Homo sapiens: one gene and its partners. The protein of the gene in region 4 interacts with the protein of the main gene of each other region in a pairwise test. Each region holds a gene or a part of one and is shown on either strand. Other genes may lie near its edges.

Region 1 (7,023 bases), on a different chromosome or scaffold from region 4:
AATTTTCCATAGGGATATATGGAGTGGGCATTACTGAAGTGAAGAACTCCAAGAGAAAAGATGGAAGCCAGTCCAATTAGAGAGTTTAAGTTGGACCACAGAAGAAAATGAGGCGTTCCAAGCAGCAAGGGGAACTTGGGGAACTGTTCCAAAACTGAGCATTCACCCTTTTCTCACTGCTGAGAACCGGGTGTCCCTGGGTTCCAGCGTCTCGGTTCTTCCTCCCCATCTACCCCAGCCGGAGCCCAGAATCCTCACGTTCTCTTTGCTTCACTCTGCCCATAAAAATCAAGCAGCCAATAAACCATTTCACACAAAGATAGAAACGACTGGCGGAGTGAAATACTGTATATACTTTGTGAAATTTCAGGACCAAGTGGATCATCGTGTAAGCAAGGGAGGCCTAATGATACCTATCAAAACAAGAGCCTGAATTAAACAACAACCCAACCCATGGGTCAAAGAGGAAGTCACAGACGAGATGAGAAAACAGTCAAGAGTTGATGAAAAATCAAAATGTGTGAGATGCAGTTAAAGCAGCATTCTAGGGAAAAATGTTTCAAATCAATAGTCTAAACTTTCATCCTAAGAAACTTAGAAAAATAACAAATTAAACCAAAAGCAAGCAACAATAAGCAAATAAGAAGCAGAACTCAATGAAATCGAAAACAAAAACGAGAGAAAAACATGAATAAAATCCAAAGATCAAGTAAATTAATAAAGCTCTAGACAGAATAAGAGAAGACGCAAATTGCCAACATCAGGAATGAAAGAGAACATATCAGCCGGGCACAGTGGCTCACGCTTGTAACCCAAGCACTTTGGGAGGCTGAGGCGGGTGGATCACCTGAGGTCAGGAGTTCGAGACCAGCCAGGCCAATGTATAGTGAAACCTCATCTCTACTAAAAAATTACAAAAATTATCTGGGCGTGGTGGCGCATTCCTGTAGTCCCAGCTACTTAGGAAGCTGGGGCAGGAGAATCCCTTGAACCAGGGAGGTGGAGGTTGCAGTGCACCAAGATCCCGCCACTGCACTCCAGCCTGGACAGCAGAGCAAGACTCTGTCTCTCCAAAAAAAAAAAAAAGAAAGAGAAGACATCACTACATATTTTACTGACATGAAAAGGATAGTAAGAGACTATAATGAACACCTTTATGCCAGTAATTTGGATAACTTGACATATTTTAAAAGTCACAAATAGCAAAGATAACCTATCGCCCTTTATCTGTCAAGCCCAGAACCTGTCTCTGGAATCAAAAGACCTGGATTCAGATTCTGGATCTTTTACTTAATAACTTTTCACTGAACCTTGGCATCCCCATCTGTAAAACAGAGATAATCTATCACTCTCTGGGCAGTGAGAGGAACCAGGGCGGTAATACACCTGAAAGAGGTTATGCGTGTATACGTGATTTATAAACTGTCGCACACTTCCCACTCTTGCTAGTTGCCATTAGGATGATTTCCAAAGACAGCTTTAGAAAGACGGATCTGAATGGTGAAAGTCTGGGACACGAATGGTTGAGGAGCTGGCTGCTGGGTCCTCCCCTGGGCTAGGCTCCACCCTCATTTAGCAAACATTTCCTGGGGTCATGCACAGCATTGGGCCAAGCCCTGTGGGGGCCAAGGACAGTTCCGAGACACGCCCCAGCCCCTCACAGTTTTTTGCTTTAGGAAACCCAAGGTTTGCACTAAGTCTCTCCCAACCCCTGCGCCCTCCCAGCCCAGCCCCACTTGCTCTTGTCTCTCCTGCTCACCTCCACATAATTAGCAGGGAAGATGCCCAGGCGGCCGTGGTGCTCTCCCTCCAGCCAGTTCTTGTCCACCTCCTTGTGGATGTAGACAATGTCACCCTTCTGCAGAGTCAGCTCCCTGCAGGTGGGGACGAGGACCGCAGGGTAAGCTGAAGCCTTCCCAAGCCTCCTTCCCTTCAGACCCTGCCCAACACACCCCAGTTCTCTCACCCCTTGGGGATGCCCACTGCAGCCCAGTCCCCCTCCCCATCCCCCTCTGGGATGGCAGAGATTGCCTTGGGTGGAAGGGGAGGGGGAGGAGGGCGCTTACTTGGGGGACTGCGCCTGGAAGTCAAACTTGAGCCTGGCGGCCTTTCTCTAGGCAGGGGAGAGGACAGAGTGGGCTCTCTCAGTTGGGCGGGTGGCAGATCCAGGATGGCAGCCTTGGGACCACTCCAGGTCCCCCACACCTGGTCCCCTCCTTACCTTCTTCTCTTCCCTCCTGGCTGGGCTGCCCCCTCCGTTAGAGGCACTAGGGTCTGTGGAGAAGCACAACCTCAGCTTGGGGAGGCCATACCTGGGGGATGGGGTTGCACCCCCACCTAGGGCAGGCACTGGCAGAAGCAAGGGGCTCTGTGACCTGCCACCCCTGGGGCACCAACATGCCTGGTGGGTGGGCATCTCCGTGAGAAAGAGAGCAGGGCTGGGTCCTTACCTCGGGTTGAGGAAGGGTAGACAAAGTCCCTCCGACCTAGGAAGGGGCTTCCTCCATCAGCCATTTTGTGGGGACTCAGGGACCGGGCGGAACCCAGGTAAGGTGCATGTGGGTAGCTGGAGCTCCAGGCTGAGGCCGGGCTGCACGGGGCACAGAGACTGAGCCTCCAGCCTGGGGCTCCGCACCCCACCCTGGTCACCCCTAGACCGCTCTGACCCCCCATCGCCCCCATCCCTGCCACCTCCTCCCAGGGCGTCTCCCGGGTCCTGGGCTCTCCACAGGATGTCCTACTTCCCGAGTCGCTGCGCGGGGAAGGGTGAGGCCCGGCAGGGCCCAGCGGGAGTGCCTGGGCCGTGGCGGGGCCGCCCTAACCGCGCTGCGCCCCCGGCGGCCGCGACCCCGGTCCTCTGCTAGGAGTTAGCTGCCCTCGGTGGCGCGGGAACGGCGCCCCGCAGAGAGTGGCGCTGCGGTCCCTCCCGGACACGGCTCTGCGGTTCCTTCCTCCCCCGGCTGGGCCCCGCGATCGCCCCCGTCCGCCCCGCCCGGCCGCGCCACGTTCCCTCCCGCCCGGCCTGGGACAGCCCCCTTCCTCCTCCCGCGTCTCCCACTCACCCGGCCGGGGGCCGCTGCTCCGGGGCCCGTCGGGGCGCCGGCGAGCTCTGCGCGGGGAAACGGCGCAATCAGGGCCCGCGACCCCGGGACCCAGCGGCAGCCGAGGCCGCCGCCTCCGGAAAAGTTCGCGGCTCGGGAGGGGAGGAGAGCGGGCGGGACGCGGGGTCCTAGAGGCGCCCGCGCGGCCGATCCCGGGAGCGGGGCGGGAACTAGGGGAAGGGGCGGGGGTCCCCGAGGCTGGGGCCCGGGGGCCGGACGGGGCGGGCGCCCGGTCGTCGGGCTGACGTGGAGTCCGCTTAGAAAGGCTCCTCGGGGTCACTTGCGAAAGTCGACGCCCTGTATTTTATTTATGGAGGAGCGAGCCCGCCAGCGCCCAGGAGGGCCCGAGGCCGGTGCGCGCCGCTGGAGGCCGGACCTCGGCTGCCCGTCCTCCGCCCAGCCCAGCCGCCGAGGCTCCCGGCTCGCCCCGACCCTGCGGTCGCCGGCGTGCCCCGCGGGTGAACCCTGGGGGCTGGTACCTTGGGGGACGGCAGTCGGGTCTCAATTGCCCGCAGGTCCTTGTCCAGCTCGGCGCTCAGCTCGGCCAGCTCTCTCTCCAGCAGCACCTGGGGGCGGGGAGAGGCTGGGCAGTGAGGGGCAGCGCACCGTGGGGGTGGGAGGCAGCGGTCAAAGATCGACTGTGAAAAGCAAGGCCAGCGCACCGGGCCGGCGTAAGGGCAGGCCTCAGCGCACGGGCCGGGCTCCTGCCAGGAGGTGTGGCCCAGGGTGCCAAGAGGGCATCCCCGCCACGGCCTCTCACCTGCCCAGCACGCCCCGGGAGTGCCTACGCGCTTCCTGATCCCGCGATTCCGCAGTCCTGCCAGTTTCTGCCAAGTTGTGTCTCTGTTACAGCACCAATGGGGTTCCCCATTTCCTCTCCCATCTTCTCCCGCCCTCCAAGGCCTGGCTTCACTGTGCCCATCCAGGTTCCCCCGCCACCCCAGGGACCGGAGCCCCCACCCCCACGCTGCTTCCTGCCAGCCTCTGCTATGGGTCTTCGCCGAATCAGGCCCTCGGAGCTTCTCAAGGGTCCAGCTCCACCTCCAAGAATATTTCCTGATAATCCCAGTGCGCACTGACCACTCCCTTTTCTGCTCCTGCTTTGGCCAACACATATTTATTTAACACATGTTTACTGAGCGCCTCCTGTATGCCAGCCACTGTCCTGAGTGCTGGCATTACAGAAATAAACCATGTGGGACTGGAGAGAGAGCTCTTAGTTCGTGGCCTATGCCCATGGTTACTGGGGCCACCAAAACCCTAATCTCCCTGGTTTATCAGGCTGCTGTCCCCAGCACCCTGCAGCACTCACCTCAATGGGCTGGGAGGGCTTCTCACCAGGGTCGTCCACCAGCGGTTTCTTGGGCTGAAGGGTAGAAAGGGTGTGTCAGAGCAGGTGAACTCACTTTCCAAAATGTATCAGCTGAGGGTGCGTGCACACCCCGAGAGCCAGCCAGCACTCACCCTCTGCCCAGTCTCTAGTTCCTGCAGAAACTGGTTCCAGGACTCTTCCGTCCAGACATTGTCTACTTTTTCCCGGCGTCTGAGCACCTGCGTGGAGGTGGGTGGGTGTCAGCTTGTGAAGAGGGCTACTGGGACACTGGCCAGGCTCAAAATGCAGGCTTGCAGGCCCCTGCCCTTCCCCTGGGCCCACGGTGTCCTCCAAGGGATTCAAGCTGAAAGGACATCGTGGCATAGGGTCTTGGCCATACGGCATACAGCTGGGGCTGACCAGGGACTATGCTGGGTGGGCTACCTGATTTGAGGGCTGCAGCACAGTGGAGAATGCTCCAGGTCTGTAGTTGAAGGTGCTTCTAGGTAACTCTTCAGAGTGGTCCCAGCTTCTTCTAAAGAAAGGGAAGGACATCTCTTCAGCTTCCTTTTAGGGAGACTGAGGCAGAAGCCAGCACACAGCCCTCTCACCCTGCCCTTGTCCCTGCTGTGGGGTCTACTCTGCCTCTGACTGCCCTGCCGTTACTCTGGAAGCAAGATTAAACTGTGGAAGTGTGTGAGCTCCAAGCTTAAATTCCAGCTCTACTGTTTAGTGGATGTGTAACCTTTGAACAAGTTACTGATCCCTCAGAGCCTCAGGCTCAGAACCTGTAATATAGAAATGATTTGGTGAGAGAACATATATGAGGTGCCCGGGAGAAGGCCTCACACACATATTTGCTCCAGGTGTGGCCCGACCCTCTCCTGTGGGCCTTTTTGCTAAAGTGTCCTGTATGTGTGTTTGGTCTGGCCCCATGACTGTGGCTATGTGCGTCTGTGCAGCTTTGAAGAAGCTGGTCTTTCTGGGTGCTGTGGCTGAGTGATCGTACACCCATGGGCAAGGAAAGCCAGAGGCAGCTCTGCCCTGCAGCTCTGGCCAAGTTATTTCTGCTCCCTGGGCCTAGTTCCATGAGGGTGCTGGATTCAGTGACTCTGTCTGTGAGACCACCCCAGCCACTGCAGTACAGCATGGACACATCTGCCTTAGCTCCCCTCCAGGGCCCCTTGCTGGCTGGCTTACATGGAATGTTCCAGCCTCTGTTTGAAAGTTTCCACTGAGAGGAACCACTGCATCAGGCTTATCAAATAATACAACGTCTGACCAAGGGTTGGGATTTGTTGGCTGTAATAATGACTCCATTCTGATTTTGGTAATAATAAAAGTGACTGTGAGAATGTCATTCCTAACCTAAGGAAGCAGTAATCATAATTTTTTTTTTTTTTGATACGGAGTCTCGCTCTGTCGCCCAGGCTGGAGTGCAGTGGCGCAATCCCGGCTCACTGCAAGCTCCGCCTCCTGGGTTCATGCCATTCTCCTACCTCAGCCTCCCGAGTAGATGGGACTACAGGCACCCGCCACCGCGCCCGGCTAATTTTTTGTATTGTTTTTAGTAGAGACGGGGTTTCACCATGTTAGCCAGGATGGTCTCGATCTCCTGACCTCGTGATCCGCCCGCCTCAGCCTCCAAAAGTGCTGGGATTACAGGCGTGAGCCACCACACCCAGCCTTGTAATCATAATTAAGCCTGTATATTACTAATGTTTGTGCAGGCTTGCTATGTGCAAAACATGATGCATGATACACACATGATCACACTGAACCCTCTGGGCATTACCACTTAAAAGATGGGGACACAGAGGCTCAGACTGAGTGAGGTACCCACAGTCACATGGCTAGTGGCAGTGCACAGGCTTAAACCCAGAACTCAGCGTCCAAATCTTGAGCCCTTTGCCTCTGAACCTTATCGGTGATGCCCAGAGCTACGGGCCAGTTTCAGCCATGCTAATGAGACGAGTCCTTCCCTGCAAGGGAATAAGAAACTCAAGGATTTAACTCTGAGAGCAAAGATCCTGATTCCCACGGTGGTGCTGACCCCGCCAGGGCCCCAGCAGCCGGGCGGAGCCTGTGGTTTGCACAGAGGAAAGGAATGTCATCCTTATCCCTCCAAGGGGCTCCTCTCTCTGTGCTATCAGGCTGGAACTTGGGTTCTTCCATATCCCTTGTTTTCTCTCAGGTTTCAAAGTGGACAGCGCCAGGTCCAAGTTCCCCTCAACAGTTCTGTCCACGGCTGTCCTGGCCGCCCCACTCCCGGTCTCATAAGACCGGTGGGATCTTTGGGGCAAAGAGTTCCTGCTGCTGACCACAAACGCATCACAGGCGTTCCTGGCCAGGAGCGGGTGCCAGGTCCACTCTTGCCTACCCTTCCCCCCTTGACCCTGTAGGGAAGAGAGTCTATGGGGGTGGTGGAGACCCAGAGATGGGACAGAGCCCAGACGGACACGGAAGTGAGACCCCACTCCTGGCTGGGCTCCGAGGCTGTGCCGGCTGTGGTCACGAGGGGGCGCCCGTCCCATGGTGTCTCGCGGGCCGCGCCCCTCCGCAGCCCTCGGCCCCGCCCCACTGTGCTCACCCACTGGAAGATGTTGCCGG
Region 2 (7,432 bases), on a different chromosome or scaffold from region 4:
CTTTAGCAAAAGTCCTTTCACATATGAGGTAGAGGTGGTGATGGATAGTCTCAGTGCAGTGAACAACCTATACCACTATATGGGGCCATTTAACTTGCCCTATAGACAGAAGAAGAAGGGGAGTGGTAAGAGCATTTTGGGCAAAGAATACAATGTGAGCAAGAGCACTAAGACAGTAAATTCAGGAAGTGAAAGGACACTGAAGGCTTGAGCTCTAGAGCAGTGATAATGAGGTTGAGGTGGAAAGACCTGATTTAAGAGCTATCAGGGTTAGAATGGGTAGGACTTGGCAGGTGATGAGGGTGAGGCAGGTGGATCACTTGAGGCCACGAGTTTGAGACCAGCTCACTACAACATGGTGAAACCCCATCTCTACTAAAAATACAAAAATTAGCCAGGTGTGGTGGCTTGCGCCTGTAATCCCAGCTACTCAGGAAGCTGAGGTAGGAGAATAGCTTGAACCCAGGAGGCAGAAGTTGCAGTGAGCCAAGTTTGCGCCACTGCACTCCAGCCAGGGCGACAGAGCGAGACTCCATCTCAAAAAACAAAACAAAACAAAGTTTTATTTTTATTTATCTAATTATACACACATGCACAGACACCTACGTATACAGACACACACACGTACACACACACGCACACAAATATATATATGTGCTGATGCACTGGGGCTTCCACTGCTCTTACTTGATGTGGGTGATATTATCATCATTATATATATATGAGGGGGGAGAGAGAGAGAGAGAGAGAGTGAGAGAGAGAGAGCGAGAGCGAGAGAGAGAGAGAGAGAGAGAGAGAGAATCTTGCTGTGTTGCCGAGACTGGTCTCAAGCTCCTGGCTTTAGGCAATCCTCCCACCTTGACCTCCCAAAATGCTGGTATTACAGTATTTATTTAATTTTTAGGTGTTTTTTTGTTTCTTGGGGGCTGTTTTTTTGGAGATAGGGTCTTGCTCTATTGCCCAGGGTGGAATGCAGTGGCTGTTCTTCACCAGGGCCATCATGGCTCACTACATCCTTAATCTCCTGGCTCAAGTAGTCTTCTCCCCTCAGCCTCCTGAATAGCTGGGACTACAGGCGTGTGCCACCACACCTGGCTATCCTACGCAATACGAGACTGGGTAGGGGGGGGCAGTCTAAAACAATATGGAGAGTACCTTTAGATCCGGATTTCGGGGCTCAGCCTTGCCATGGGAAGGAGGCATGGTGTGTAGCAGTGGTTACCAGACTTCTTTCAGTAGTTTAAAACAATTAAAAAAAAGATGAAAGACTGATATAGTGCTGTTCTCCTTTAATTTTGCCAAGGAAAGTCTTTTTTAAAAAACCTCTGTTGTTCCTGTCACTTAACACTAAAACGTGGAAAAACACATTCTCAACAACAGCAAAATAGCAGCCAGGCATGGTGGCACTTGCCTGTAGTCACAGCTACTTGTGAGCCTGAGGTGGGAGGATTGGTTGAGCCTAGGAGTTGGAGTCTGCAGTGAGCCATGATCCTACCACCGTGCCCCAGCCTGCTACTGCTAAACAGGTTAGCGGTGTCAGGAGGGTCTTCCCTCTTGCTGCTCGGTGCCTAGAACATTCTTGCCCAGATATTTGCATAGCAGCACAGCTGGCTCCCTCATCTTTTATTCAGGTCACCTCATGAGGCCGCTCCGGTCTATTTTAAAGCTGCAAGCTTCTTGGTTGTGTTTTTTGTTTTTTTTGTTTTTTTTTTTTTTTGAGACAGGGTCTTGCTCTGTCAACCAGGCTGGAGTGTAGTGGCATGATCACTGCTCACTGCAGCCTCAACCTGCCAGGCTCATGTGATCCTATCACCTCGGCCTCCAGAGTAGCTGGGATTACAGGTACAGGCCACCACCTGGCTAATTTTTGTATTTTTAGTAGAGGTGGCGTTTCACCATGTTGGCCAGGCTGGTCTCAAACTCCTGACCTCAGGTGATCAGCCTGCCTTGGCCTCCCAAAGTGCTGGGATTACAGGCGTGAGCCACCATGCCCGGCCAGTCCTCTCTAGCTTAACCTTCACAAAGAAACTTTGAAATGATATTCAGTTTTTGTTACTGCTTTCCTCAGGCCTTTTCTGTCTTTAGCACCAACCTCTTCTGCTCAGCCCATTGAACACTCATTCTGGGCCCAGGGGTCTAGGCTCATGCCTGTAATCCCAGCACTTTTGGAGGCCGGGGTGGGCAGATTGCTTGAGTCCAGGAGTTCGAGACCAGCCAGGGCGACATGGCAAAACCTTGTCTCTACAAAAAAACCCCAAAAACTAGCTGGGTGTGCTGGCACACACCTATCATCCCAGCTACTAGGGAGGTGGAGGCAGAAGGATCACTTGAGCCAGGGAGTTGGAGGCTGGAGTGCGCCGAGATTGCACCACTGTGCTCCAGCCTGGGCAACAGAGTGAGACTCTAACTCAAAAAAAAAAAAAAAAAAGAAACACTCATTCTGTTTCACAGAATGGTTTATAGAATGGTGTGTTGCCTGATTCTGTAATCACAAAAGTCAGTTAAGAGCTTTAAAGTAAATGTTATTCTGTCTTTTGGTAATAGCAATTACCACCATCCAAGGTACTACTGTAAATAATTATTGTTTATTCCCTCCTCCACCTCCTCAGCACAGGTACTTTGTGTTTTTTTGTTTTGTTTTGTTTTTTGAGGAGGAGTTTCACTCGTTGCCCAAGCTGGAGTGCAATGGCGCAATCTCAGCTCACTGCAACCTCCGCTTCCCGGGCTCAAGTGATTCTCCTGCCTCAGCCTCCCAAGTTGCTGGGATTGCAGGCATGTGCCACCATGCCTGGCTAATTTTGTATTTTTAGTAGAGACAGGGTTTCTCCATGTTGGTCAGGCTGGTCTTGAACTCCCGACCTCAGGTGATCTGCCCGCCTCGGCTTCCCAAAGTGCTAGGATTACAGGCGTGAGCCACTGCGCCTGGCCTTACTTTTGTTTTATACTCTGTTGTACCCTCAGCGTAGCACACATTAGGCACTTAGGAAGAATCTGAGAAACGAATCAGTTAATCCCTACTTTACCAATAATGAATAAAGACTGAGAAACTCGGGCCGGGCGCAGTAGCTCACACCTATAATCCTAGCACTTTGGGAAGCCAAGGTGGGCGGATCACTTGAGGTCAGGATTCAAAACCAGCCTGGCCAACATGGTGAAACCCTGTCTCGACTAAAAATACAAAAAAAAAAATATGAGCTGGGCGTGGTGGCGGGTGCCTGTAATTCCAGCTACTTGGGTGGCTGAGGTGGGAGAATCGCTTGAACCTAGGAGGCGGAGGTTGCAGTAAGCCGAGATCGCACGACTGAACTCCAGTGTGGGCGACAGAGTGAGAGTCTCAAAAAAAAAAAAAAAAAAAAAAAAAATAGACTGAAAAATTACGCAACCTGTCCAAGAACACTACAGCGACAATTAGCAAAGCTGGGATTTTAACCCAGGTCTATCTCACAGCCACAGCATAGTATTTTCTTTTTTTTCTTGCTGTGACTGCACGTTACGCCATACATGGCATTCAGGACGCAGAGGAATTAGTATTTACTGTTTTTAACATTCCTTACATGGGAATCACGTAAAGAATCAGGTAAACAGGATTCAATTTGTGACTCAACCATTAATACTTTGTGACACTGGCTAATTTATTTCACTTCTGGATGTCGGTTATGTTTTTTTTGAGACAGGATCTCGCTCTGCTGTCACCCGGCCTGGAGTTCAGTGGAGGGATCTCTGCACCGTCAACTTCCTGGGCTATCAAGCGATCCTCCCACCTCAGCCTCCCTGGTAGTTGGGACCACAGGTGCCCGCCATCATGTCCGGCTGATTTGTAAAATTTCTTTTGTAGAGATGGTGACCTTGCTCTGTGGCCCAGGCTGGTCTCGAACTCCTGGACTCAAGCGATCCTCCTGCCTGGGCCTCCTAAAGATTCAGCTGCTTTTGGATCAACCGATCGCCTTAAGACCTTTTAACTCGAACACCTGTCACATCCTAGGATCCGCGAAGGACTGAAACAGAGTTTCTGAAGCGTCCCTCGGCGCAGTAGCTCCGCTCCACCTCCCATTCGCGCTACCACCGCGGCCGCAGCCCCAGGAGTCGCCGCGGAGCCAGCGTCGCCCTCCAGCTGTTGCGCGTCGGAAGCCGGAAGCAGGGACTGAGCGACAGACTAGGAAACGCCGGTTTCTCCGGGGCTCCCCAGCGCCCCACCTTTACCCCGGAGGCCGCCCTCTTCCATTTGCTCTTGGGCGTCAGGGCGGTACCCCACTCCGCTCGACCCTTTGGATCCACTCGCACTTCCTCCCGTCCAGAGTCAAAGGCCCCGGAAGTGACGTTTACGCGCCGCGCGTAACGTGCGTTCGCTGGCGGTGCCGGGGGCGGGGCGAGCAGGAGGGTGGGTGTGAGGCGGGAGCTGGCCGCGGAGCCCAGACCTACCCGGGCGAAGCGGGCGAGCGGTGGTTTGGACGCCGGCGGAGACGCGGGCGAGGTACGGAGCGGACGGACTGGGGCTGAGAGCTGCTCGGCTCTCAGCTACAGGAGCGGGGCGGCGGGGCGTCTCGGGCTGGGGGTGGCAGGGCGGTCGGTCCGTGCCATCCGCGCGGCTGGGGCAGTTGCGCGTCGGTGCCTCCCGCTGTCCTTCGTCCCACATTCCGTCTCCGTCAGCGCCGCCTTCCCCGTTCCAGGCCGCCCTCGGCTCCCTTAATCCTCAGAGTGCGGCCTCTCCGTCCCAGACGCTAGTTGCCGGGATCTCCAGCGCCAGCCGAGCCCCGACGGCCTGACGCGGAGCATTTCCTGGCCGCCTCCCTCTCCGGCGGCTCCCCTCGCCCCGGCTCCCACCTTCCGTCCAGGCCGCTGGCTCCGAAGCAGCGTCTGTGGTCGCACGGGGCCCCTCCCACAACCTCCCCGGAAAGCGCTGGTATGGGACGCTCGGACCCAGACCACAGCCCCCGGCCGCGGCAGGGGCGCGGGGACTTGATCCCACGTCACCCTAGGGGGCAGAAGTGTCCCGGAGTTGGGAGGGGATTTGAAGCCTGTGGTCCTGACTTCCACCCCGTGGCTGAGGGCGAGGCTGCGGGGCCGGGGTTAGGAGCAGAAGTCCCTGCTTCCGAACCGTCTGGGAGGAGAGCCGAGGGATGCCCATCACGGCAGTTTAGGGAGAGAGAGGGAGGGACTCTGCCGCTTTGGAGGCTAGGTCATAGGCAGCTGGCGGTGTCTCAGCGCGGGTGACCAATCCTTGCGGTTGGGAAATGTGTCGTGGGCGCCCGTGGGCTCGTTTTGCCTTTGAGATTAGGTAGGAAATTTTCCCAGGACGAGTTTACCGGAGCACCTTGGGAGTTGGTTTTTGGCCTGGAGAGCTGCTTTCCCCCCTCTAAACCTAGAACTGCTTTGTTTTTATTTATTATTTTTTTCGACATGGGATCTCACAGTGTTGCCCAGGCAGGTGTGAAACTCCTGGCCTTAAGTGATCCTCCCGCCTCGGCCTCCCAGAGTGTTGGGATTATAGGCGTGAGCCATTGCGCGGCTTTAACTGCTGTTAAAGAGTGTGTTCCGGCCGGGTGCGGTGGCTCACGTCTGTAATCCCAGCATTTGGAAGGCCAAGGCAGGCGGATCATGACGTCAGGAGCTTGAGACCATCCTCCCTAACACGGTGAAACCCCGTCTCTACTACAAATAAAAAAAAAAAAGAAAAAGAAAATTTGCCGGGCATCGTGGCGGGCACCTGTAGTCCCAGCTACTCTGGAGGCTGAGGCAGGAGAATGGCATGAACCCGGGAGGCGGAGGTTGCAGTGAGCCGAAATCGTGCCACTGCACTCCAGCCTGGGCGACAGAGCTAGACTCTATCTCAAAAAAAAAACTAAGAGTCTGTTCCTTAAAATTGTTGTACCAAGAAACTTGCCAGAGATGCAAGAAAATGTGATTATATTGTTAATATTTAATGATAAATAACATTTTGCTTTTAAGAGTCACTGATTCATATCCGCAGGATTAAGAAATGTTCAGGATTTGAATTTTTAATGACCTTCCAAGCAGTCATGTTTCTGCTCTCTAGAAGTTAGCCAGTTGAGGAGAAGGGACAGTCAAGATACTTTCAAAACAGTGTGGTAAGGAATGTGAGCTAAGATGGAGCACCGAGGAAGGAGCCGGGCATTTAGGCCATGCTGTTGGGTGTGGAGCCTGGAAGGGATCAGGGAATACTTTCTGCATGTGTCTTGAAGAATGACTAACATTCAGACTAACAGGGTGGAGTGAGGGAGAGGGGGGAATCAAAGGAGAGGAGGCCAGTAACTACAAGGAGGTGCCTATTAATTTATTTATTGAGAGAGAGGGTCTCACTTTGTCACCCAGGCTGGAGTACAGTGACACGATCACGAGTCACTGAAGTCTCAACTGCCTGTGCTGAAGTGATCCTCCCACCTCAGCCTCCCGAGTAGCTAAGACTGCAGATGCGTGCCACCACACCCAGCTGATTTTTAAATATTTTGTAAAGATGTTGTCTTGCTGTGTTGCCCTGGCTGATCTCAAACTCCTGCACTCAAGCAATCTTCCTGCCTCAAGCGTCCCAAGTGCTGAAATTACAGGCATCAGCTACCGAGCCTGGAGGGTCGTTACTAAAGTGAAAAAGTGCAGGACAGAGATGTAGGAGCTCAGGCTTCCTCTGATGGTGACAGAACCAGGGGAAGTTTTTTAGCTGGGTCCTTGTGTGGTTAAAATGGGTCTCTCTGGCCAGGCGCGGTGGCTCACGCCTGTAATCCCAGCACTTTGGGAGGCCGAGGCGGGCGGATCACGAGGTCAGGAGTTTGAGACCAGCCTGAGCAACATGGTGAAACCCCATCTCTACTAAAAACACTAAAATTAGCTTGGTGTGATGGCGCCTGCCGTAATGCTAGCTACTCAGGAGGCTGAGGTAGGAGAATTGCTTGAACCTAGCAATTCTAGGAGGTTGTGGTGAGCCAAGATTGTACCAATGCACTCCAGCCTGGGCGACAGAGCGAGACCTCGTCTCAAAAAAAAGAAAAAAATTTAAAAAAAAAAAAAAGGCTCTCTCTCTCTCCCTGTCTCCCAGGCTGGAATGCAGTGGCAGGAACACAGCTCACTGTAGCCTCCACCACCCATGCTTAAGCTATCCTCTTGTCTCAGCCTCCCAAGTAACTGGGACCACAGGCCTGCCACCTACTAATTTAGCTTGCCTGGCTAAATTTTTTTTTCTTTTTTTGATACGGAATCTGGCTCTGTCGCCCAGGCTGGAGTGCAGTGGCGCGATCTCGGCTCACTGCAAGCTCCCCCTCCTGGGTTCACGCCATTCTCCTGCCTCAGCCTCCTGAATAGCTGGGACTACAGATGCCCGCCACCATGCCTGGCTAATTTTTTCTATTTTTAGTAGAGATGTGGTTTCACTGTGTCAGCCAGGATGGTCTCAATCTCCTGACCTCGTGATCCGCCCTCCTCG
Region 3 (6,306 bases), on a different chromosome or scaffold from region 4:
CTCTTCCTTTAATCAAAATATAAAATGCCTGGGAAATGTGAGTTGCAGGGAGTCAGAATATTCCAGAAGATGGCTCCTTCCATTCTTCACCTCTTGCCCCGTCTGTGTAAGTGTTTATCAGGAAAGTGCCTCATGAGGCCAACATTCTTCATGATGGGTCACATCTTGTCCATTGATCATTGGATCTGCCATGTTGGAGGATGCAGCCGGTGGGCTGGTTTCACGGTGGAGCTGTGCTGGGTGATCAGGTGAGCCCCAGCCTAAGCCTGCTGCCTGGGACACTCACCAGCTCCTGGAAGACTCTGGCCCTTCCTGGCACACAGGGGGCCATCACTCCTCTGATACCTTCCCACTGCTCGTCAGTTTTGACTTCAGAAATAGCACAGCTATGCCTAATCACAGAACGGTATTTGCCAAGAAGAAAATCACACTGTTTAAAAGGCATGATTTAGACGTGTGTGTGACGGTCTGAGATCTAAAAGGAGACTTATTTATGCAAAGTCAGGGTGGATGTTGAGGATGATAAACACTTGTATTCTGTTGAATCCAGAACTCAAACTGGAGAAAAAAATCAAGATACGAGTGGAACCTGGAATCTTTGAATGGACAAAATGGGAAGCTGGCAAAACCACCCCAACCCTCATGAGCCTGGAAGAGCTGAAAGAGGCAAATTTCAACATTGACACTGATTACAGGTATGCTGTTCTAAAGTTCTCTGCCACTGGGGCTTTTCCAGTTATTGTTAAAGAAAAATTTCATGACACTGTTAAAATGGTAAGAAAGACTTTATTCAAGAGGGACCACTGCAGTGGGGTTTTGCAGCAGGGGAGAGAGGTGGGGCTCAACTCCTAATACAAGGAAAAGAGGGGAGTTATAGCCACAGAGCAGGGTGGGGGTCAGTGGATGGAAAATTCCTGAGAAGGTGGGTCATTCTTGCTAAACTGACCTAAATGGAGACTCTTGCTGAAGGCAGGCCAAGGTGATCAGACATCACCTGGGGGGTGGTAGAGGATAAGGAACTTGATCAGATGTCGAAGGTAGGAGGTTCTTGCTAAACTCACTCTGCAAGAACAGACACAGAAGCCCAAGGGTCAAGACCTCATTGAGAAGAAGGTTCAGAGGAGCTGGACTGGAGTTTAGTCAAGGAGAGAGTCTTTGTCATTCTCCACCCATGTCTGACTCTGCCATCACAGAGCCCTCCTGGTGTTGAGTAAGAATGTGTGCTGGAGATTGACTGTCAGTGCTTTGCCAGTTTTCAGCACAAAACTGGAGCCTGCCTGTTGACCATGAGCCTGCCTTGAGGCAGAGCCATCCTGGAAGAACGTTCTCCTTCCCCAGCTAACTGCAGCTGAGCCTTCCTAATCCCTACGAAAGTGCCAGGGCAGCAGCCTCTCCTTCTCATCCTTCCAGGCCCGCGTTTCCCCTGTCCGCCCTCATGCCGGCCGAGAGCTACCAGGAGTACATGGACAGGTGCACGGCGAGCATGGTGCAAATCGTCAACACCTGTCCACAGGACAGTAAGTGCCTCACCATCCTCAGTATGAACAGCCCCTGGGGCTTGGGGAATTATCTCTGAGATGGAAATTGGCCAATTTTCTGAACCTATGAATGCCCCTACTTCTCCTGCCTGCCCCCGCCCCCATTCTCCAGCAACAAAGTTTTCATCACTGCTGCTGCTGCTGCAGTAACCGGGTGCACAGACACACACTCCCCTGCCGCCCAGGCCCTGGGACCCCCCATCCTGGGACTGAGTGCTGATGGGAGGGGAATGATCTCTGAGATGGAAATTGGCCGATTTTCTGAACCTATGAATGCCCCCACTTCCCCTGCCCGCCCCCCACCATTCTCCAGCAACAAAGTTTTCATCACTGCTGCTGCTGGTGCAGTAACCGGGTGCACAGACACACACTCCCCTGCCGCCCAGGCCCTGGAACCCCCCATCCTGGGACTGAATGCTGATGGGACCCAGGCCAGCAGGGTCACACAATCCACCCATGTCCAAGGGATTTGAGTCAGCTTCCTGGGAAACAAAAGAGACAGAGAGAGAAAGAACAACCAACTTCCAGGTGGCGCCCCCTTCCCTGACCCATCACACGGGTCTCCTAACCCTCCCGTGTTGCTTTGTCCTGGATGAAGCATGCACAGAAGCGCTGACTTCCCACGCCTTCCCCTGAGCTGGCAGGGACAAGCGTGTCTCCTGAGGGAGACCCACTCGGCCTGTGGTCTCCAGGTGTTCTTATCTAAAGCAGGAGTCGTAGCAGGCTCGTGTGACAAAATAACCGGCTGACCTTTCTAAAGTGAATCAGGTCTGGCTTGGGCGTCAGCCACCGCTACATCCCAGTCTGTGGCTGACGGGGCCCAGGCAGCCAGCGACCACAGGGGGTGGCTCAGCTCACTTCCTAGGCCTCCCTGAGGCTGGTGGGCAGCTGCTGCGTGCAGAGGAATCCATGAGCGAGGGTGGGACGCAGGCATCACTGAGCGGTTACCAGCCACACTACTTCTAGCCCGGGGGTCTCGCCAGGCTTCGGGGCACTCTGAGATAGCTCTGCCCCCCACCACTTTGGGGACCCCAGTCTAATAAAAGGTGCTCTCTGGGGCTGCTTTGACCTGGAGGTGTTCTTGTTTTCCACAGCGGGTGTCATCCTAATTGTGAGTCACGGCTCCACTCTGGACTCCTGCACGCGGCCACTGCTCGGGCTGCCGCCCCGGGAATGTGGGGATTTTGCCCAACTCGTGAGAAAGGTACGCGCCCACTCTTGGCTCTTTGGGCCACAAAATCAAGCATCCCGAAGACACAGGTTTATCTCATCCACTTCTCGGAATGAAAACAAGTGTCCGGCTGACCCAGGGCCACCAGGATCCACGTGCCCCCGGAGACTGTGCCCACCGGCTCTTATGCGAAGGGTGACTTCGGGCTGGGGCTGGTGGATAGGTCAGTCAACCTCATCATCATTGGCCACTTGCCAACTTTTTACCAGTCAGCTCATGCCATGACCCCTTGCAGCTCTCGTAGAAAAACAGACGGTCCAGGAAGGAGTAAGCAGTTTAGATGAGGAGGGAAGAAACGACTGTGGGACTCGATTCTGGCCTCTTCTGGGGACCTGGGGCAGGGCGGCTGATGGATGAAAAGGAGCCCCTTGATCCTCTTGCCCTTGGAGTCACCCAGCATGGAAGAAGCTTGAGCTGGTTGTAGCTGCCAGAGTGCTCAGGCTCTGGCAAGGGCCTTGTGAATGACAAACAGAGGATAACGCACACGTGACATCTTGGACAACCTTGATTATCACTCAGCAAAGCCAGAGGGTGATGTCCAGTCCATGGGTGAATTGAGGCAGGCAAACTCAGGAGTGCAGATCCCACCCCAGTCCCAGCCCTTCCCTGCAGATCTACTCAAGGCTGGACTCACCACAGTCCTGACCTTTTTATGAAATTCATCAGTCCACTGGTCAGTGCCCAGGCAGCACGTGCAGCATAGACAATGCCTGTCATCGGAGGTGCTTGAGGCCCTGACCTGGTTTCTTCACATAGCACTGCCACAGGACCACACTGGCCACAGCTTGTTTGCCATAAGTTGTGGGCAGCAGTGGGGGTTGCTGAGTCCCCCCAAGAGGTCAGGGGCTTCAGAGGAGCCCAACTCCCGGGCCCAGCCCAGTGACACCAGCCAGGTGCCTGCAGGAGGGCTTAGCTCTCTAGCTACGCCTGCCTCAGCAGCCAGATGAGAGGTTACGCACATGAAGAGCATGCCTGCCGTGGGTCATTGTCACTCAGCAATTAGGCATCAGACACCCGAATCTCCCTTTCTTGCTCCATTTTCCTCTGCACCTGAGTAGAAACATGCTTCCCCTGCAAAATGTCTCCAGGGTGGTGTGTCCCAATTATGATCCAGACATTTCCGAGCGCCCTGGATTCTTGAGCCACCAGGTGAGCATTGTCCAAATAGGGCAGCTCAACCCCCCTGGGCCACACTGGTAGAGGTCTGCATGGATTTTCCTGGGGACTGTCCGGGGCAGCCCCGGCACCACCTGCTCCCAAAATGTTGCTCTTGCTTCTGCAAATGGGTCTCCCACACATGCGCTCTGATGCATTCCTCCTGTCCCTGCCCCGCTTCCCACAGTCCCATATACACATACCAAGCCTCCAGCCCCAGGCGCTCCTGGGGGCCCACGTAACCAAGGGTGGCAGCACTGCACACACCAGCTGCTGACAGTTCCTCAAACCCATGAGCCTTTGTGGCCAAAGCTCCACCCACTCCTTGGACCCTTCACCCCCTTCCATAGATGCCAATCTTGAACTTCCAAACTCCTGGACTTTCTTATGCTGGTCACGTGGCGTTCACCCTGCCCCTACCCCAAAATAAGCTGGACTTGCTCATGCATATCAGAAAATACAAAGGGGGGGCTCTACCAAATGATGGGCCCCCAAATCAGGGCAGCTGGAAAGGGAGCACTCAGGACCCTCCCCGACCAGCCCATCACCGCCCCTCGCCCACAGCCTCTGCAAGCGTGAGGAAAGAATCACCCTAGGGTCAACACCAGCCTCACTCAGACCCCCCTGCCAGTTGGCATTTTTGTAAATTTCATCTGCCTGAGGAATTTCTAGACATTAGAAAGAGGAAGGAAAGAAAGAAAAGAAAAGACAAAAACAAAAAAGGCTTCACCACAAAGCTCTGTTCTCACACATCCATTTCACAGATGAAGGGATGGAGGTCTAAAGGTTCACTTTGTGCTTTTCTTTTGGGTCTGAAAACTCAATGTCTGTGTCTTTTTGTGATGCTGAATATGAGAATATGAGTCACTCCTTAAGTGGTGGATGGCAATCTCCACCTCAGCCTGCAGACCTTTGTGGTGGGGGCTGTTCTACTCATTGTAGGATGTACCACCTTGTAGGACCTCTACCTGCTAGGTGTCGGCAGCACCTCCATCCTCAGTTGTGACAATCAGAAATGTCTCCGGAATTACCCAGTGTCCCCTGGCTAGGGGACATCCCCCACGGGGCACCGCCAGGGCAGATGTTGGTGCCATTCAATGGTGGCAGTGCCAGCCTGGGCAGTCGCAGACCCTCCAAAGTAGAGGTGTGCCTGACAGTTGGCTTTGGAGCTAGTCTGAAATTGATGGACTTGCTATAAGATATTAACAAGTGATTTAAAACTCTGTTCCAGATCCCTTCCCTGGGCATGTGCTTCTGTGAAGAAAATAAAGAGGAAGGAAAATGGGAGTTGGTGAACCCACCGGTGAAGACCCTGACCCACGGGGCGAACGCAGCATTTAACTGGAGGAACTGGATCTCAGGCAACTGAGAGCCACGGTGATGTTGTCATAACCTCAGAGTGGAGAGGCAGAAACCATGTGCAGAGGCTGGGAGATGCTGCTGTTTCCAGAGGCGTCTTAGTCTCACCCAATGTGATTTGTAGAAGCACGAGACGCACTTTTATATCCCGGAATATTTCCCTCCGGCTTTCGCCTTTGTAACTCCCATCTGTGGACCCATCGTCCACCAGCCCAGCTGCGGGGAGCACAGGGCAGGTGGCTGGGTGAGGATGCCGCCCTGCAGCATGTACACCGAGTGTCTGCAGCTGGGGACACAACTGCCCGGGACTCTAACTTCCAGGAATTAAAGACTCACCACACACGAAGGATCTAACCACTTCATTTTCCATGGTCTAATCATTAAATTCCCAATCGTTTTTTCTTTTTCTGGGTCCATCACTCTTTAGCCATATCCACATGGGCTAAAACAGGTGTAATAGTCAATAAAATGGTCCCAGAAAACCATCGACCAGGTCAAAACTGGGTTGCTGCTCCGTGCTGTCAACATTCATGTTACTATGTCTCTGTGGTTGCTGTAACCAATGACCACAAACCTGGGGGTCATGGAAAGAACACAAACTTTACACACACACACACACACACACACACACAGGCACATACACACATGCACATATGCATACAAAGACAGGCACACACGAGCATGCACACACACAAACACGTGCACATACACATGCGCACACACATGCACACGCACATGCACACACACGCAGGTACACAAGCATGCAAACACACATACACATACAAACGCGTGCATGCATACATGCACACATGAGCACACAAACACATGCACACACTTGCACACATGCACACAAAGGCATACACATGCAATGCACACACACAAACACACATGCACACACAGGCACACACACGCTCACATGCACACACACACACGCTGACTCTCCTACGGTTCTGGAGGTTGGCATTTTCTCAGCAGGCTATGTTTCTTCTGGAGCCTCCAGGGGAGGATCCTTGCCTTTTCTCA
Region 4 (7,626 bases):
AAGTTCACCTAAATTTATCATGTAAGTGTCACGAAACCCTTACTTTTTCCAACCTGGTTTTTCTAAAGTGAGAAATAATTGGCAAGGGCATGGTTTGTAAGATAACCAGAAAGAAAGTCCTTTTTACCTTCAAGGTGTTTACATTCTAAATGGGCAGAAAAAGAATTCCAAACTTAATTGTGTTTCATCTATTTACTAAGAAGCTATGTTAACACTGAGCTAACCTTAAAAGAGTGAATAGTTAAAGGAATGGTCACAGATCCTAGTCTTGGGAAGTGGCAGAATACATTGCAAAGAGTGAGGAGTTCTCTCCAGGTGACAAAAGGCTGCATTTTTTTCTTTAGATTTTTTGTGTCTTTTAAATTTTCTACAGTAAACTTTTATTACTTTTATAATCCAAAGGACACAAATTCTATGTCTAGATTTTTTAGTCATTCCAACCAAGATTTATATGCCGACTCTGCCACTTAAAGCTGTTTGTGACCTCAAGCAAGTTACTTAGCCTGTCCAAGTCTTGATTTTTGAACTGATACAATGAGAGATAATGTGGAGATCACATGAAAAGCTCCCGTCACAATGCTGGCATACAGTAGTAATCAAGAAATGTTAATTCTAGACGTCAATTCTTCCTACATGACACATGAATTTTCCCTAAAGAAAACTGATGATGACAAAACAGACCCCTACAATGATCACCACACCAAGTCACATCCATAAGGCTCTTGTTACCTTGGCTGAAGCTGGCCCCTTCCAGTTCAAGTACTGCTCTAGTTCTGTGCCCTTAGCCCGGGCCCTGGAGGAGTCAAACACTTTCCTCTTGGAACCCCGCATCCTGCTGCAGATGTTGGAGTGTCTCTCCAGCCTGAACGAGAGGAATTTGCGCCCACAGTGGCTGCACTCACCCAGCTGTGGCTCTTCAATGGAGCCGCTGGAACCTGAGGAGTCTGGTGCCATGGACAGGCTGGAATTTCTGGCGGATCCCTGCAAAGCACCGACTGGTGTTTCTGAAGGCGGGGAGAATTTCTCCACCGATGGCTCTGAGACTGGGTCTCGAATTTTATTATTGCTTGCTACCAGCCTTTCCCTTTTGAGCCTCTGGATTCTATAATCAGAGAACTGGAATGGACCTGAATTTTGTTGAGACCGTCCCCAAGTTTCATCCTCTCTCCTGTCTCTACTAAATTCTTCCTCAAACTCAAATTCTGGGGAGAAGATAGGTTTGTACATGGTGTTGCTTTTATTACCTTTAACTCTGCTCCTGGGGAGTATAATTTTCTGTAGCTCTCCGTTTTCATTTTCCTTGGCCTGTTCCTTTTGCGTCTGGATCCTTCTGAGTTCCTCCTCTGTCTTCTTCAGCTTTCCCCTCAGGAGAATCTGCTTTCTTCGGATTTCCTCCTCTAAGCTCTCCCCTGCAGCTTCTAGTCTTCGGATCTGCACCCACTCCGTCCTGTCAAAGTTTGCCACGGCCTTCTCCGCCTGCGTGGCAGCAAGAACAGTACCAACCACAGAAAAGTTGCCCTGGTTCCTCACACCAAAGTTCCTAGATGAAAACTCTCTCGGCTCAGGGGGCCTTGGGTAGACATTATGGTCCCCATCAGTGCCAGCCTCACCTGTACTGCACGACTTCCTGTGGACCATGGGTTTCAATGGGAACGCCCGGTCCACTCCAACTCGTTTCTTTGTAAAGGGGATAAAGTCCTGGTTATTGGCTTTGGGATACCAGGATTGAGGGCCTGACGAGTAAAACAAACCATTTCCTTGGCCCTGGGAATCACTTTCTGGATCTTGCTGGCTGATTCCAGTACAGTGGGGATAGGAGTAGCTCCGGGCTTTTGTTTGGGTGTTCCATTTGGGGTGAGTATAGACTTTATCCAGAATCAACTCTTTGTTGCTCAAAAGCTGCTTCTGGAAATTGTTCCTCAGGTGCCCCTTCAAGGACTGCTGGGAAGAGTCACCTTGTTCGTAAGAGTCTTGCTTGGCTGAGTGGGGCCCTGGAGCTTCCGTTGTATTATGTGGGAGCATAACGCCCACAGGCAGATGTGACGCCAACCGCTGGAGACCAGCCATTCAGGGCCTGGACTGACGCCTACGGGAGATTTAAACCAGATACACGGGAAGAGTTTGTCTGAGGTTCACTCTCGGCTGCTAAAGCAAACTATTTCTACATTTGCCCTGCCCACATTCCCTTAAACTTTTCTGGGGACAGTGTTGCTGGACCTGCCAAAGCTTCCCTTCAAAAACCATTTGGTGAGTGATTATGCACAAGACACTGTGTTAGGCCCTGAGGGTAGAAAAACGAAGGTGCTACAGGTGTTCCTGCCACCTAGCTTTCCTTTCCTCCAGCACCAGCCTCTGCCACGCACAGTATACTCTATAGTAGGTGGAAAGAGCACCTGACTAGAAAGTCAGGTTCTAGGCCTGTAACAGGACAAGCGACTTCTCCCTTGCTGGCCCCCGTTTCTTCCCCTGTAAACTGAAGGGTTCCCGCAGAGTCCAGCCTCACCATTTTACAGGTGAGAAAGCTGTGGCCCAGAGGTAGTGACTGGCACAAAGAACTCTCAGGGCTTCCCTCCTGCTGGAACCGTGCTTGATTCCAAAGAGCACAAAAGCTGCTAGGGCCTGGAGCAGGTGCCTGGCTGTCAAACCCTCATCCCAGGAGTCCCCGTGGCGCAGACTGTAAAAGTTTTGTAACCTGAGCGTTGAGGGCCACCTGACCTGACCGCGGCCGGTTTTAGATCCTTAAGGCTGAAGTCACGTTTTGTCCCGAAGGGTCAACTGGGGCGCCCCCACTTCGGACTCCACCTCTGGGGACAAGTCCTCTCGCTCTCCTGCCCTTCGGTCCCTTAGGAGGTGGAGGTGCTGATCCCATGTCTCCCCGCCCTTCTGCGTACCTGAGGCCCTCGGGCACCGCTCCTGCTCAGGGAAAACCCCAGGGCCTAGTTTCCCAGACCTGACCTCCCCATCAACCGACAGCCGCGCAGGCGCTCTCAGCTGGCTTCTGTTATTCCCGGTGCCTGGAAACCGAGGCACTGGCGCGCCAAGCTCCGCCCCTCGCCGCGAACTCCTCGGGGAGACGCGCGCAGGCGCAGTGCACCAGCGACCCGGGGCGACCGGGGGTGGGGGTGCGGTCAGCCCAAGGTCACTTGACCCAGTCAGTGTCCGGCCAACTCTGCAGCTCGGTCCAGCCCTGCCCTTGGGGAGCCGGGGAGGGGCGGGAGAGGCTTTTCTGGAGCTCCTTCAAAGAAGAACTTGTACTTTTCTGAGAACGACGCTCCCAGACCTTGGGGTGTGCCCTTGTCTGGCAAAGGGCGGAGGCCCTGGCTGTGCCTCCGCGTGCTTCCGCCGCAGGATGCCGGCGTCCGCCCGCCTGGCGGGAGCGGGGCTGCTGCTGGCCTTTCTCCGCGCGCTCGGCTGCGCTGGGCGGGCCCCAGGTATGGCTGCACGCGCGCGCTCCTTGCTTGTCCTCGCCAAGGCTTTGGAACTTGCTGCCAACGTTTTTGCTACGCAGTATCTTTCCGTGGTAGTTTTTGTGGCCAATCTAATTATTTTGATATTATAATGTTTTACTCACGTGGTAATTCTAGCCGTCTCTACTTAGGGCCCAGGAATGACTCAGCCAAATGTAATGATGATAAAGTTAACTACCAGATCGAAAATAATCAGTATAACCTGGCTTCAACAGTAAATGATACTCTATCTTGTTGACATCAAAAGAAAGTTCATTTTTCTTCTTCGCTTCAGTTCATCTGTGTAAGCCGTTTGGAACAGGCAGTTCGCTTTTTCCCTGTAACTACTCAATTCATGCACATGGAAAATAATGTAGACAGCAGTCATCAGTGTTAATACTTCAACATGTCATATTACAGCTGTTACCCGTTACAAGGAAATTCCTTGGTGGACCCTCCAGATCAGTCTTTTTTTTTTTTTTAATTCCTCGTTTTCATCCCTAGTTGACTCTACCGCCTCTCCGTATATGCAGCTCCAGACGTTTCCCACTCCACTCAGGGTCCCGATTATCAACTCCCACAGCTTCCCTCAGCAGAATTTACCGGCTTTCTTTTTCTCTTTCTCTCTCTCTCTGTCTCTCTCTCTTCTTCCTCCTCTCCCTCTCTCCTCTGTTTCTGTCTCTGTCTGTCTCCCTCTCTCCTCTCTCTCTCTCCTTCCCTCTCCTCTATGAGAAAGAAGGGCGACTTTCCATTGAGTTCCATTGAGTTCTCTTGAATTAGTCCTTTTCAGTACCCTCCGGGAATTGACTCCATCACTTTACCCCTGCATTTTTGTTTTGTTTTGTTTTCTGTTTTGTTGGTTTTTGGGGTTTTTTAAAGTTGTTTGTTTTTTGTTTTTTGAGACGGAATCTCGCCCTGTTTTGTTGCCCAGGCTGAAGTGCAGTGGCGCACTCTTAGCTCACTGCCACCTCTGCCTCCTGGGTTCAAGTGATTCTCCTGCCTCAGCCTCCCGAGTAGCTGAGATTACAGGCGTCTGCCACTACACCTGGCTAATTTTTTGTATTTTTAGTAGAGACAGAGTTTCACCATGTTGGCCAGGCTGGTCTTGAACTCCTGACCCCAGGTGATCCGCCTGTCTCAGCCTCCCAAAGTGCTGGGATTACAAGCATGAGCCACCGGGCCTGGCCTTTGTTTTTGAGACAGGGCCTCACTCTGTTGCCCAGGCTGAAGTGCAGTGGCACAATCACTGCTCACTGGAGCCTCAACTTCCACAGCTCAAGTGATCCTCCCACCTCAGCCTCCCGAGTAGCTGGGACTACAGGTGTGTGCCCCCCACACCCAGCTTACTTCTTTTTTTTTTTTCTGTAGAGACAGGGTCTCCCTTTGTTACCCAGGCTGGTCTCAAACCCCTGGAGTCAAAAGAGATCCTCCCGCCTCAGTCTCACAAAGTACTGAGATTATAGACGTGAGAGACGGCACCCTGTCTGCATCTTGTTAACTTCAAGTTATACCTCTCCATAAACTCTGTCTCTTTGGTTTTAACATATACTCAACTTTCCCCTGCAAAACAAACCTTACTTCCCTTGACCTAACTTTCATATTACAGTCCCATTCATTTCTCCTCTTCTCCACAAGACTTCTTAATGGAAATCTCCACATTTGCTGCCCACATATCCTCATCTCCCCGTCATTGTCCAGTTCATTGTGGCCTGTCTTCTACTTTCTCCACTTTATTTAACTACAAAGCTACCAGTGACTTTCCAAAGACAAAAGCTTCATTTTTTCAGCCTACTCATGTGACATTACTGATTATCCACCCACTTAGAATGCTCTTCTCAGTTCTCCTGTGCCCTCTTGGTTTCTTCTTTCATGTTCTTGCTCCATCTTCTTCCAAGTCTGGCATTTATCTTTTCCCCATCTACTCCCTAAATTTAAGTGTTTTCTGAAGCCCTCTTATTTCATATATATGTGTGTGTGTGTGTGTGTGTGTGTGTGTGTGTGTGTGTGTGTGTAGTTCCAGACATTCTCTTCTTTAATGATTTCAACCAAATGCTGAAATTTCAGGTTTCACCTGTGTTTAAATGACAGCCAGCTTAGCTTTAGTCTTTCTCATTAGTTACAGACTCAAATTTCAGGACTGCCCATTTGACACCTCCACAAGATTGTTCCTTAGGAACCTCAAATTCTGTAAGACAACATAAACTCTGATCCTCTCCCATTCTCAAATCTGCCTCTCCAGTGTGCCCTTGCATGCTCACAGCATCAGTCTTCCATGCTTCCCTCTTTGTTGCCTCTTCCTTCTAACTAATCACAAGTTTTATTGAGTTTTCTTCCTTTTTTTCTTTGAGACAGTCTTGCTCTGTCATCCAGATGGGGGTGGAGTGGCGCGATCTCAGCTCACTGCAACCTCTGCCTCTCAGGTTCAAGCAATCCTCCTGCCTTGGCCTCCCTAGTAGCTGGAAGTACAGGTGTGCACCACCACGCCCAACTAATTTCTGTATTTTTAGTAGAGATGGGGTTTCATCAGTCTCAAACTCCTGACCTCAGGTGATCCACCTGCCTTAGCCTCCCAAAGTGCTGGGATTACAAACGTGAGCCATCACGCCTGGCCTATTGAGTTTACTTCTGCAATGTCTCTCATATATGACTCTTCCTTTACATTTCTGCTGCCCCAGGTGAGTTTTTCCTCACTTCTCCTTGGGATGGCATAGCCCTCCTAACTTCTGCTCTTGCCTTCAATATCTGCTCTTCAAACCCATCCTTCATGCTGCAGGCAAAATAATCAGTCTAAATATTTCTCCACCCCCCCCCAGCTTTATTAAAATATAATTGACAAGCAAAAATTATATCTATATTTGCAGTGTACAAAGTGATGTTTTGATAATGTATGCATTGTGCAGTGATTAAATCAAGCTAATTACTAAATGCTTCTGATCCTACCATTTCCCTCCCCAGTAGCTTCTTCTTTACCTATAGAATAAAGTTGAAATGCATAATTTAGCATGGCATCTCTACCTCCCAGATTAGGTCCAGCCTACCTTTTCAGTTTTGCCTCCCCTTAATAAGCCACAGAGTTCAACCCAGTGAGTCTCATCCCTGACTGTGTGTTAAGACTACTTGGAAAGCAATATCTAGGGGTGAGGCCTGAGGATTAACATTTTTAAAGCTTCCCCAAAGATCCTGATGCACAAGCAGGGTAGCAAACCCCTGGTCTAGCCACAACTGGCTACTTGTACTTCTTCATCTCCATGGTACTACATTACTCTAAGCTCCACATACTGGGAGCTGGTAGAGCATAGCATTCATGGGGATTGACTCTGGAACCAAATCCCAGCTCCATCACTTACTGGTTGTGTGACCTTGGATTAAATGCTGTTTCCTCCAAGAACTCTTTCCCTGTCTTCCCAATCAGAATTAATTTGTTTGCTCCTTTGTAATATTTTCTGTCCTTGTTATAGCACAGGGCTGGTTCCTGATGAGCTCTCAATGGATTTTCATGGAATTAAATTATCATGCCATATATTTTATTGTCATTATTTGCATGCATTTGTGCCCCTACACTAAATTAAAAACTCTTTGAGGGCAAAGATTTTATATCATTCATCTTTGTATATCCTAGAGTGCCCCATTCGTATTAGACACTCAGTAAGTTTTGAATTCTATAAACTATTTTTTAAATGAATTTTAGAGAAAGAAATACCATTAGCAAGATACTCTATTTAGAGTTATTTTCAAATATTGCCAAGTACAACATTCAATCCAGCTTGTTCACCACCAACCCCCCACCTCTCAGCACTAAGGTTGTATGATTCTCTAGGATATGGATCCTCACTCTAGCGGGGAACTAGCAGAATGATGAATTTCCGTGCCTACTGTCACAAACCCATATCTCATTGTCAAGTCTGCCAACCTGGCATATTCACATAAGGAGTCTTTACGTTATGAAGAGGTGTAATGTATACAGTCAATCCACAGAGGATCAATAAACACCACAGTTTTCCTTCACACACATGAATCATAAGGGTAGCTGGATTCAAATGTTTACACATCAACTCTAATTTTAACCATCTTCATCCACATCCCCCTTGACAATTCCCTGTTCCCAAAATAAATTCGTGTAGTTTGGCCATTTGGCTTAGATTGACTGACTCAACTGTAATTCTGGAGCCATGAGTTATTT

The links.
Region 1: the proteins of ZC2HC1C (region 4) and SORBS3 interact in binary tests that used the Homo sapiens proteins (3 or more experiments, as listed by UniProt).
Region 2: the proteins of ZC2HC1C (region 4) and RABGEF1 interact in binary tests that used the Homo sapiens proteins (3 or more experiments, as listed by UniProt).
Region 3: the proteins of ZC2HC1C (region 4) and UBASH3A interact in binary tests that used the Homo sapiens proteins (3 or more experiments, as listed by UniProt).

What each region holds. Positions count from the first base shown.
Region 1 is NC_000008.11:22,561,912-22,568,934, reverse strand, and holds part of SORBS3 (vinexin), read right to left. Parts: coding exon 7,004-7,023; intron 4,949-7,003; coding exon 4,858-4,948; intron 4,653-4,857; coding exon 4,566-4,652; intron 4,468-4,565; coding exon 4,414-4,467; intron 4,127-4,413; exon of another isoform or gene 4,062-4,126; intron 3,929-4,061; exon of another isoform or gene 3,862-3,928; intron 3,668-3,861; coding exon 3,581-3,667; intron 3,207-3,580; exon of another isoform or gene 3,110-3,206; coding exon 3,063-3,109; intron 2,947-3,062; exon of another isoform or gene 2,692-2,946; intron 2,591-2,691; coding exon 2,451-2,590; intron 2,275-2,450; coding exon 2,222-2,274; intron 2,114-2,221; coding exon 2,067-2,113; intron 1,875-2,066; coding exon 1,760-1,874; intron 1-1,759. UniProt on the Homo sapiens protein: Vinexin alpha isoform promotes up-regulation of actin stress fiber formation. Vinexin beta isoform plays a role in cell spreading and enhances the activation of JNK/SAPK in response to EGF stimulation by using its third SH3 domain.
Region 2 is NC_000007.14:66,736,322-66,743,753, forward strand, and holds the start of RABGEF1 (rab5 GDP/GTP exchange factor), read left to right. Parts: upstream 1-4,411; 5' UTR 4,412-4,471; intron 4,472-7,432. UniProt on the Homo sapiens protein: Rab effector protein acting as linker between gamma-adaptin, RAB4A or RAB5A. Involved in endocytic membrane fusion and membrane trafficking of recycling endosomes. Stimulates nucleotide exchange on RAB5A. Can act as a ubiquitin ligase.
Region 3 is NC_000021.9:42,441,902-42,448,207, forward strand, and holds the end of UBASH3A (ubiquitin-associated and SH3 domain-containing protein A), read left to right. Parts: intron 1-550; coding exon 551-695; intron 696-1,252; coding exon of another isoform or gene 1,253-1,301; exon of another isoform or gene 1,302-1,404; intron 1,405-1,410; coding exon 1,411-1,517; intron 1,518-2,632; coding exon 2,633-2,742; coding exon of another isoform or gene 2,743-2,932; intron 2,933-5,155; coding exon 5,156-5,293; 3' UTR 5,294-5,783; downstream 5,784-6,306. UniProt on the Homo sapiens protein: Interferes with CBL-mediated down-regulation and degradation of receptor-type tyrosine kinases. Promotes accumulation of activated target receptors, such as T-cell receptors, EGFR and PDGFRB, on the cell surface.
Region 4 is NC_000014.9:75,065,015-75,072,640, reverse strand, and holds the start of ZC2HC1C (zinc finger C2HC domain-containing protein 1C), read right to left. Parts: upstream 3,001-7,626; 5' UTR 2,892-3,000; exon of another isoform or gene 2,693-2,891; intron 2,087-2,692; 5' UTR 2,068-2,086; coding exon 730-2,067; intron 1-729. Other genes in the region: ACYP1 (acylphosphatase-1 isoform c precursor), read left to right, coding at 3,350-3,431.